Linked DNA regions of Homo sapiens. The protein of the gene in region 1 purifies or fractionates together with the protein of each later gene. This does not show direct contact. Each region holds a gene or a part of one and is shown on either strand. Other genes may lie near its edges.

Region 1 (4,356 bases):
TTTGTATTGTGAGAAGGTTGGAGAACAGCCCACATTGCAGCTAAAAGTGAGTAGCTAAGAAAAATATTTAAAAAGCCTTTCCTTTTAGAAGTGTTTGGTTGAATACCTAATTTTAGAATTAAAAAAGAAATAGTCTCATCTTCCTAAGCATATTTATTCCCAGCCTCTTTTAAGTTATGTGCATGCAATACACTTTTCTTTTTATTCTGGCTGTCAGTAGTTAAGGTCCTTGTTTTGCTTTTTTTTTTTCCAAGCCAAACTGCATCCAGCTTTATTAAAGATACTTTCCATAAACATTCATGGTATTTCAGGCAGGATATGGGCAGACAATTGTTAAGAGTATGCAGCAAACTTCAAACTCCCTTGTTCAAAGGACTACCAAAAATCAGAAAGCCACTATAAAACTCAATGAAGTCTTCATCTGATGCTCTGAACAGGGAGAGTTTAGAGTGAGAGTTGACATTTCACATTTAGCATGTGGTTTAAACTTTTCACAAGCCAACCCTGACTTTCAGGAAGTGAAATGAAAATGGTAGAATTTATCTGAAGATCCACGATCTAGAAACAGAACCACTGCTCTTTTGACAGGTGCCATCTCAGTGGCATCACTGGAAAGTCCAGAGTGCCTGACATACTGGTAACCAATGATTGAGGGCCAGGTCCCAACAGATGTCTGGCTTAAAGGAGTTAAATCTATGCTGAAAGATGGAAAGGGAGAAGAGGACATAAAAATGAATTTATTTTCCATACCACAAGGCTTTTCTGCCAAGGTGGCCATGTGTGTCAAAGTCAGAGAATCCCTCCTCCTGGGAGCCAAGAGGAACTCTCTCAAAACTAGAAGGGAAAGGTGTTTTCCCCACATCGATCCAGCTTTGGAGACATTCTATTAGTGACATATGCCCCTTCCCCTAAAAACAACAATGAAGTGTTCTGGGTGCTAACAACATAGCTTAAAAAGAAAAGTAAAACAAAATTCTGCATTTTTATAAAACTTGATAAAAAATAGTTTTTCAAACTGTACAGTCACCAGAAGTACACAGTTATCAAAAATGCACACACTACACTTGGCATCTGCAGCACCTTCAGCTTTCTGTGCCTTCCCTGTTTTGGCATCTCTATTTTCTGCAGAGTTATTCCCCTCCTTGCCAGCATCAGCTTTTCCCTTTTTCCCTTTGGGTACCTTCTCTCCCTTCTTTGCAGGGGCATTTTTAGGCTTGGCCTCTGGATTTGGAGGAGCAGGTTTAGCAGACAACTTTGCGGGCCTTCTCTGTGGTTCGTCCTTCACCTTGGCTTATCTCCTTCAGCATCCCCTTCAGCCTTTCTCCTGGGCATGGTGGTGGCCACCCCAGCGGGATATAGGCACTGGATGCAGGATGCAGCATTGTGCGGGTTTTGGTCAGTCTGGGGGCTGTTCTTGCCTCTTCTTCACACTGCTCTGTCTTTCTTAACCTTTGATATATTCTTGGCCATCATTTCTTCAAGTATATTCTCACCCTTATTTTCCTTTTGGAATTCCTATTCATCCATCGTTGGAAGTTATGAATCTCACTTCAATATCTCACGATATCTCATCTAATTTTTTATACTTTCTATCCCTTCATTGCTTTTTAAAATTTTGGTGTTGCATCTGGAAGAATTTCTTGCTTTGCTCTGCCAGCTCATGGTTACATTTTCAGTGTTGTCCCTTCTGGAAATCATCCTTTTATAGCATTTCCTGAAATTTCAATCTTTACTCTTTTAATTCCCAAGCTCTCTGGTTTGTTCTTTTTTTATTTTTTAATGACTGTTTGTCCTCGTTCCACAAACTTCAGTTTAATTCAGTTTGATTCAACTCAATCCAATTCAATTAAGCGCATGTATGGGTACTTCCTGGCCTCTAGCACTGCGTAGATGCTTGAGATATAGCTGTGCACAGAATGGCAAAGAACCCTGACCATGTGGGGCTTGGATTCTAGTGAAAGGAGAGAAATGGCAAACAATAAATGTAATAGTAGGCAAATTTGTGCTATGTTAGAGGTCTTTACCTCTCCTAGAAAAATAAAAATGGTTACAGCAGGATAGATAGACCAGCAGTACCAGGAACACAGGCGGCGTCAGGCTGCAGTGGTGAATAGTGCAATAGGCATCATTGCCTAGGTGAGATGTTAGCAGGGAGTAGAAAGAGCTAGGGAAGTTAGTTAGCAGGTGTCTAGTGAGGGCACGTCCCAGGACCAGTGAGGACCGGTGTGCAGGAGTGAATTGAGGAATGAGTCCAGAGAGATAAAGGCAGACATGAAAGTCTTGTCCTTTGCAAGGACTCAGCCTTGCAATCTGAGTGAAATGGGAAATATTAGAATGTTTTGAACAGAGGAATGGCGTGAAGGGGCTTAGGTCTAAAAAGGATCTCTCTGGAGATCTTAGACTGTGGCGGGCAAAGGTGAAAGTCCTTCAGGAGACTTTGAGGTGGTCTAGGTGTGATTTGATGGGCCAGGAGATAGCAGCAGAGGTGGGGAGCAGTGAGTCAGATTCTGGTAGTATTTTAAGTGGAGGAAACAGGATTGTGAGTGTGATCAATAAAGTCAGGACTGAGAATGACATTTGCTACTTTGTCCTGTCAGCTAAGTCACCCTTATGTTGTGCGTTTGTTCTCAGATGGGGACTAAGAATTGACTGTTGCGTTTGGCAATGTGTGGGTCTTTGGGGACCTTGGCAGGAGCAGTGTTGGTGCTGTAGTGGGGGCAAAAGCCTGGATGGAGTAAGTTTAAAGGGAGGAATTACAAGAAAGGGATCAGAGACAGCAGATATGGACAGCGATTGCAGGAAGTTTTCTGCAAAGTGGAACTGGTGGCGGTGGTGGGTAAGCAAAGTAGTTATTTTGTTTAAGATGGTAGAAATGACAGCAAATATGCTGATGGGAATGACTAAGAAGAGCAAGCAAAATTGATGGAGCACAAGAGAGCAGGGAGAACGGCTAGAGGGATGTCCTTAAGTTGCAAGTGCAGATAGGACCTTTCACCCAGTCCTCCTCAAGCAGGGAGGTGCAGATATGGGTGCCATGTGCTGGGAGCCCATGTTATGGTGTGGTTTGTACAAGTTGTCTTCTAATTACTTCAATTTTCTCAGTGGGTAGGAAGTTGAAGGTGATGATGGAGGAGGTATGGGAGTTTCAAAGGAGGAAGCATTCTTCCATTTATTAAACAGCAAATCTCTGTTGAGTAGAATGCTGGGGGCTTTCCTCTGTGTTGAGGAATACAGTGATGAACAAGTCTAACAATCATTCTGGGATTGATGAATAAATACGCTAAGTTTAGATAGCAGTTGGTACTAATGAAGAAAATAACTCAGGAATATGATCGCAATGAGTAGGAGGGAGGATTCCAAACCGATTTTGGCTGGGATGGAATGTTCAGTAAAGTTCTCCCCAAGGAGGAGACCCAGGTGATGGGGAGCAGCTGGCCTTGGGAAGATGTGGGGCTGGTGTGAGGTGCAGGGAGAGTAAGTGCCAGGACCTTGGGTGGGAACAGCTTGGTGTCTTGGAAGGCAAAGAAGAAGACAGGTTGGTGGGGGCAGAATGAGCATGCAGGAGAGTGGTAAGAAGGCAGGGCAGCAGGTAGGCAGGAGCTGGGTGGCGTAGACCCTGTGGGCTTTGCCGAGGAGTTTCACTGTAATAACAATAGAAAATCATGCAAAAGGGTATCATAATCTTATTTATTTACTTCAGTTTAAAGTTCACTTACCTGCCTTATGGAGAATGATTATTAGAGAATAGAGTAGGTTCAAGGAGAACATTTAGAAGGTCACCCTAATTGTCCAGGTGAGAGAGTGATGGCCTGGATTGGGGTTGATGCCATGTGTGGAGTGCAAGAAGTGACTCGATTCAGGAAATATTTTGGTATTTTGGAAATAGAGTCCACAGGCCTTGCTCCTGGGTTAGATGTTAGGGGATCAAAAAAAGAAATGTCAATAATGACTCCTAGGTTTCTGGCCACCCAAAGAATCAGATTAACTGGAAGCCATTAATTGAGTAAAGGAATCCTGTGGGAGAAGAACTTCTCACTCAGGGTGGAATGTGGCTGAATTACAGATCATTTCTGTGTCTCTCTTGAGATCTTGAACACTTGCAATTTACTTAGAAATACTTATTTTACCTAAATATACAATGCATGTACATACAAATATATAGACATACAGAATATAGTTCCATATACAATATAGAAGGCATTTTTTGATTGCTCTATTTACCTTCTTCCTTTGATACAAATCCTTTGATTTGTTAGACCCTCTTGGGTCTTTTTCATTGGTATTTATCTTTCTCATATATGTGGCAATTAGTCAGAAATTCATACCCTAACCTGGCTGTCCTTTGTCACGCCGGTG
Region 2 (5,280 bases), on another chromosome or scaffold:
TTTATGAAATGCAGAGATAACTTTGTAATCTCTTTTTGAGGATAATACCTAGAAATAAGAAAGACCTGTCAAGAAATCAGTTCCCTGAATAATCATTATATTCAGGATTAAGGCAAACCCAAAATGTACCTGAGCATTTATAAGAACCTTTCATAAATTAAGGCTCCCAGCTACCAATCCTGTTACCTCCCAGCTGGCTCTGAGCCACTTCCCAGCCCACAAACACGGAAATATCTTGGCTGTGGGTCAGCAGGGCAGACCACAATACTCTTCTGAGACCCAGAGAGTTTATGAGATGGTGGGACACCCTAAGAAAACCTAACTTGTCCTGGTCCAAAGCAATGGCTGCCCAATTAGGCAAAGGCTGTGAAAGTGAGCTCAGCTCAAGGCGAGCGACTGAAAGGAATGTTGTGTGTCTACATGCACGCATGGGCTGGAGGTGGTGGGGGCCACTTACGGTTCAACCCAGTGAAGCTGAACATGCCAATTTGATCAGTGATGTGGTTCCAGGTCCCAGGGGTTTTGAGGGCTTCTAGTCGTGCCCTGAGTTCAGATCTCATGGTCAGAATCCGGTCAGCCATTGTCTTCACATTACCTGTCCTGAAGCATGGACAGTGACGTAAATACCAATCCAGACAGGAAAGATGGTACCCGAAAACACACAGGTTTAAAAACTCTAATTTAAACGACAGCTGACAATGGGATCATAACCTGCCTATTATGGCATGTGGATGTCTGGATGGGTGGATTAACATACCAGAGAGAGAGACTTAGGGGGCAGAAGGAAAGGACTGCATTTACTAGTGAGTCTAGTGCTAGTCTTGGGTATACTGGCTAGAATACACTCACATTTCAACTCAGGCTTCACCGAGGTGCTGCTATAGATATTAATAGGGCAATATGTTTCATCAGGACTTACTAAATAAAGATTGCAGATTTAGCTACTATATAAAAATTACTGTTCTAAAATAAGATAAAGTGTATGTAAATTACAGATAAAAACCAAGAGCTCCCAAACTGTTAAACTGCCTAGACGTTCGATATTCTATTTTGCTGGGAATACCTTCTTGGGTTTTCCAACTTCATGGAGAGGAAGACTGGGTGGGGGGGGAAATTGGGGAAAACTACCATTCATCGAGTGCCCCCTCCTGTCTTCCAGGTGTTGTGTTATGCACGTGTGAGGTAGATATCAGCCCCTGTTTTACAAATATCTGAGAGTCAAAGAAGTTAAAGTAATTTTATCCTGCTTCTGCCAAAATGAAAGGAAGAGACCCAGTTAAATGTACTGGGACAATTACTGTTCTGCACTCCCCACCCCCCGGCCCACCAGACTGGGAGCCCCTTACCATTCCTCAAAGAGCTCAGGGTTAGAGAGGGTGCTGGCCACAATTCGTGCTCCCTGGGCGGGGGGATTGGACCAAGTAATCCGCACGATCTTCTCCATCTGGGAAAGGACTTGCAGGATGCTCTCAGGTTCTTTTCCAACCACAGTCAGATTCCCGACTCTCTCATCTAAAGAGAGGGACCAGAATCAGCTGTGGCTGCTGAAGCAGGGAGTGATGCGAGGAGGTGGGGCTGTAACTCCTCAGGAGAGCACTCACTGTAGAGCCCGAAGTTCTTGGAGAAGGACTGGGCACAGAAGAACTCGAAGCCTTCAGACACAAAATAGCGAATGGCCCAGGCATCTCTCTCCAGGTTTCCAGATGCGAAGCCCTGATAGGCTGAGTCAAAGAAGGGGAACAGAAACCGGTGCTGCGGGGAAGCAAAGTGAGTCAGGGCAGGAAATCCTTCTGGCACCAACCTCAGACACCGGCCTTCCTTCCCCAGCTGATGCCTGGAGGGAATTTCAAATGCTGTCCATTTCTCCTATTTCTTGACTATATGCACCCAAGCTCCACTTTACATCCATTTCTCTCTACAACCAACAAGTGTAACCTTTTCCGTAAACTTTACTTTTTAAAAGTAAATTGTCCTAGAGTGTCCCAATTCAGCTTAGAGAAACAGGGCTTACTTTTGATGCAAGGAGACAATGTCCTACATTGTGGATTTTCCTCTGTGAATTTCTGGCGTGAGAGCCTTAGTCAAGTGTAGGCTTGGTATCCCCAGGGCTCCTCATGGGCTATTCTGCTAGGTACTCAAGAGGAAGGGAACAGAGTAGCCTCCATTCCTGTCACTCATCTCCTCAAAGAGCTCTCCACAGGGAACCTGCTTCTACAGCTGTGCTCTCTGAGTGGACACCACTTCCCTCCCCGGAACTGTCCAAATCTTTGGTTGTACTTTGATTCCCATCTCTTAGGTTTATCTTGACTAGGTGGGACTGGGGGGAATCTGGACTCCTAACTCTGCAGCTCATCCCCCACATCCTGGCACTCCCCAAGTCTCATCAGTCCTGTCTCTTCAGAGCTCCCAAATCCTTTTGCATCTCACTGTCCCCACTGCTACCTACTTCATCCAGGTCACCATCAACTCCTACCTGGGCTATGGCAATGGTCTCCTAACTGCTCCCACGGCCTGTCTAGTCTTGCCTCTCTCTGACCCATTCCCTGCTATGACATCAGGGTGGCCTTAAGACCATGCACATCCAATCATGTCACTCCCCGACATCCAAGATTTCAGTGGCTCCGCACTGCCCTGAGAATAAAGTCCAAGCCTCAGCACAGACCCTGCCCCTATTCACTCTAGCCTCATCACTCACACTCCCCATGATGTCTGCCTGGGGCTTCTGACCATGCTCCGTCCTCTGCAGAGCACATCCCTTCCCTGTCAACCCCTGTCTGCTGATGCCTTCTTAGCTCCTCCCCATCCTACAGGACTCAACATAGAAACCACTGCTTCCAGGAAGGTTCCTGCCACCAACCCGCCAACTCCCACATATACACTGCCCAAAGTCTGGGCTATGTACCCCCCTATAACACTGTCAACACAGCTATCTCACAGCATCACAGCTGCCTTAGTACTCGTCCATCTCCCCAAACAGGCTGTCTGTCTTTGAGGGTAGGGACTGCATCTGCTCCATTCAATAGTGTATTCCCACAGTGTCCAATACACAGCAGTTCCTTAATAAGTATTCTACAAACTCGTTAAGGAAGAATATACACACTTTCAGCTAGGAATTCCCACCTAGAAAGTTACGCCAAAGAAATAATAAAAGGAAATTTTGTTACATAATTTTTCATCAGATCAAGCAATCTGAAGTAAACCTAAATATTCATCAGATGATTTACCCCATCCCTAATATGACATATCCATGAAAGAAATATAATATAGCTATGAAAAATGATGCTGCAAAATATTCAATGACATGTATATAAAGAAGTGAAAATGAAAAACAAATTGTGTTGCACAAAACAGTACAGACAAAATGATCTCATCTTTGTAAAACATATACATAAAACTAGACACACACACACACACACACACACACACACACACACACAGTCTGACATTCTATCTACCAAAACATTAACAGTATCTTTCTTTAGGTAATAAAATTTACAGTTAATACTTATTTTCTTCTTTGGACTTTTCTCCATTTTCCTAATTCCTCAGCAAACAGCAAACAGGTATTGCTTCTACATACATTAAATAAGAATATATACTATTTTTTAAGAGATGCTCTGAAGGGGCAGTTACCTTCATGACAGAAGCAATCTGCTTCCACTGCTCCGGAGTTGGGTCAATCCCAGTTGGGTTGTGTGCACAGGCGTGGAGGACAACAATGGAGAACTCAGGAGCATTCTGAGGAGAAGGAAGCTATGTCAGCTCTGACACTGATGGGAATATTGGGAGACAGAGTCAGCAGCAGATTGGTCAGTGATGGAGGGCAAAGGGCAACCATATTCTTGTCACTCTTTCATGTCTCTTTTGTGCCCTCTCTCTTACATGCTATGTCAGAAACCACCATCAGGTATGGGGAAGGTGTCTCAGACTCCTTCACTTAGCAACTGGTCCAAAGACTTTGCCTGAGATTCCTGACACCATGCAATTCTCTACTTTTTCCTCTAAATCACCCACCTCCAGATCATTCAGGAAGCCCTGGAGGTCCAATCCTCTCTTCTCTGCATCCCAGTAGCGATAGGACCGAATGTCTTTAAAACCAGCAGCGGAAAACACAGCATTGTGATTCTCTGCATGCAAAGAAGTAAAAAGTTAAGCACTTTACAAACACTAGGAGGCATGAGTGGAAAGGATGCAAGTCAGCTTCCAGGGCCCTCCCAGGCTCAATGTCCACTGGGCATCATCCAGGCTGGGGGTTAAGATGTAGAGGAATGATTGTAACCAAGAACAAGTTCAACCAGTCACATTAATGCCAGACTTATATTCTACTACAATGATACTTCCTGCATCTACATTCTATGCCTCCTCTGGGGAGTTTCAACATAGCCTTGGTAGATACAAGTCTACTAAGAGTCTTGAGAAAGAGTATTCTTAACTTGATTTTGAGCAGCAGGTTTCTCATGCACTGCCATAACCCACTGTTCAAGCCATTCCCAACAGTCAGTTGTTCTAGGGCTGGATTACATTTTCTGTGTAACCAGGGAGAGTCATGAGGATAATTCTCTCTGGTTTCTGTTTTTCCTCTCACTTCAGCTGAAAGACTCACCCCAGGTTGGTGAGGACACATAGACAGGTGTGTTCTTGTTGTTTGTTCCATTGTACCAACGCGCTAAGAAATCAGCTCCAATTCGAAGTGCACCTGTTCCCCCCAAAGATTGCACACCTCCTACCTGAAAGAGAAGAAACAGGGTCACAGGCTGATAATGGTGAGGTCAGATAATATTTACAAAAATAAGGTAATAATGAGCACTTACTCTATGCCTGCTCTGTGCTAAGGCTTTTAATTGTATTATCTCATCAAAACCTTACAACTACTACATGAAAAAGGTACTATGATTTGCCCATGTTTACAACTGAGGAAACTGAGGCTGAGAGAGGTGAAGAACCTTGCTCAAAGTTACCAGCTACTGAGCAGGAGTGCCAGTCTTCAACCCAGGAGGTCTGACACTAGAAGAAGCTTCCCTTCTGAACACAGAGGTAGAGGACACACCGAGGCCACATTAGTGTGTGTGTGTGTGTGTGTGTGCATGCACGCACATGCCTTGGAAGGCAAACCCATCTCTTCAGCACCCATCCTAAGATCAAACTTACCCTCTAGCATAAGCCTCTAAAACAGTGTTCCTAACTTGTCATTGACATCAATCTGTGCTACTCCTCATCTCTAGAATTCAGGCTTATTAATCCTTAGAAGTATGTTCTAACAAAACAGAGGTGATGCATGAG

The links. The genes of interacting proteins can lie anywhere in the genome.
Region 2: the proteins of IL36G (region 1) and GOT1 purify together in Homo sapiens (affinity purification with mass spectrometry; one large-scale study listed by BioGRID and IntAct). This does not show direct contact.

Annotation. Positions count from the first base shown.
Region 1 is NC_000002.12:112,980,103-112,984,458, forward strand, and holds part of IL36G (interleukin-36 gamma), read left to right. Parts: coding exon 1-46; intron 47-864; exon of another isoform or gene 865-1,441; intron 1,442-4,356. UniProt on the Homo sapiens protein: Cytokine that binds to and signals through the IL1RL2/IL-36R receptor which in turn activates NF-kappa-B and MAPK signaling pathways in target cells.
Region 2 is NC_000010.11:99,402,123-99,407,402, forward strand, and holds part of GOT1 (aspartate aminotransferase, cytoplasmic), read right to left. Parts: intron 4,728-5,280; coding exon 4,604-4,727; intron 4,128-4,603; coding exon 4,015-4,127; intron 3,739-4,014; coding exon 3,634-3,738; intron 1,753-3,633; coding exon 1,602-1,752; intron 1,513-1,601; coding exon 1,347-1,512; intron 601-1,346; coding exon 458-600; intron 1-457. UniProt on the Homo sapiens protein: Biosynthesis of L-glutamate from L-aspartate or L-cysteine. Important regulator of levels of glutamate, the major excitatory neurotransmitter of the vertebrate central nervous system. Acts as a scavenger of glutamate in brain neuroprotection.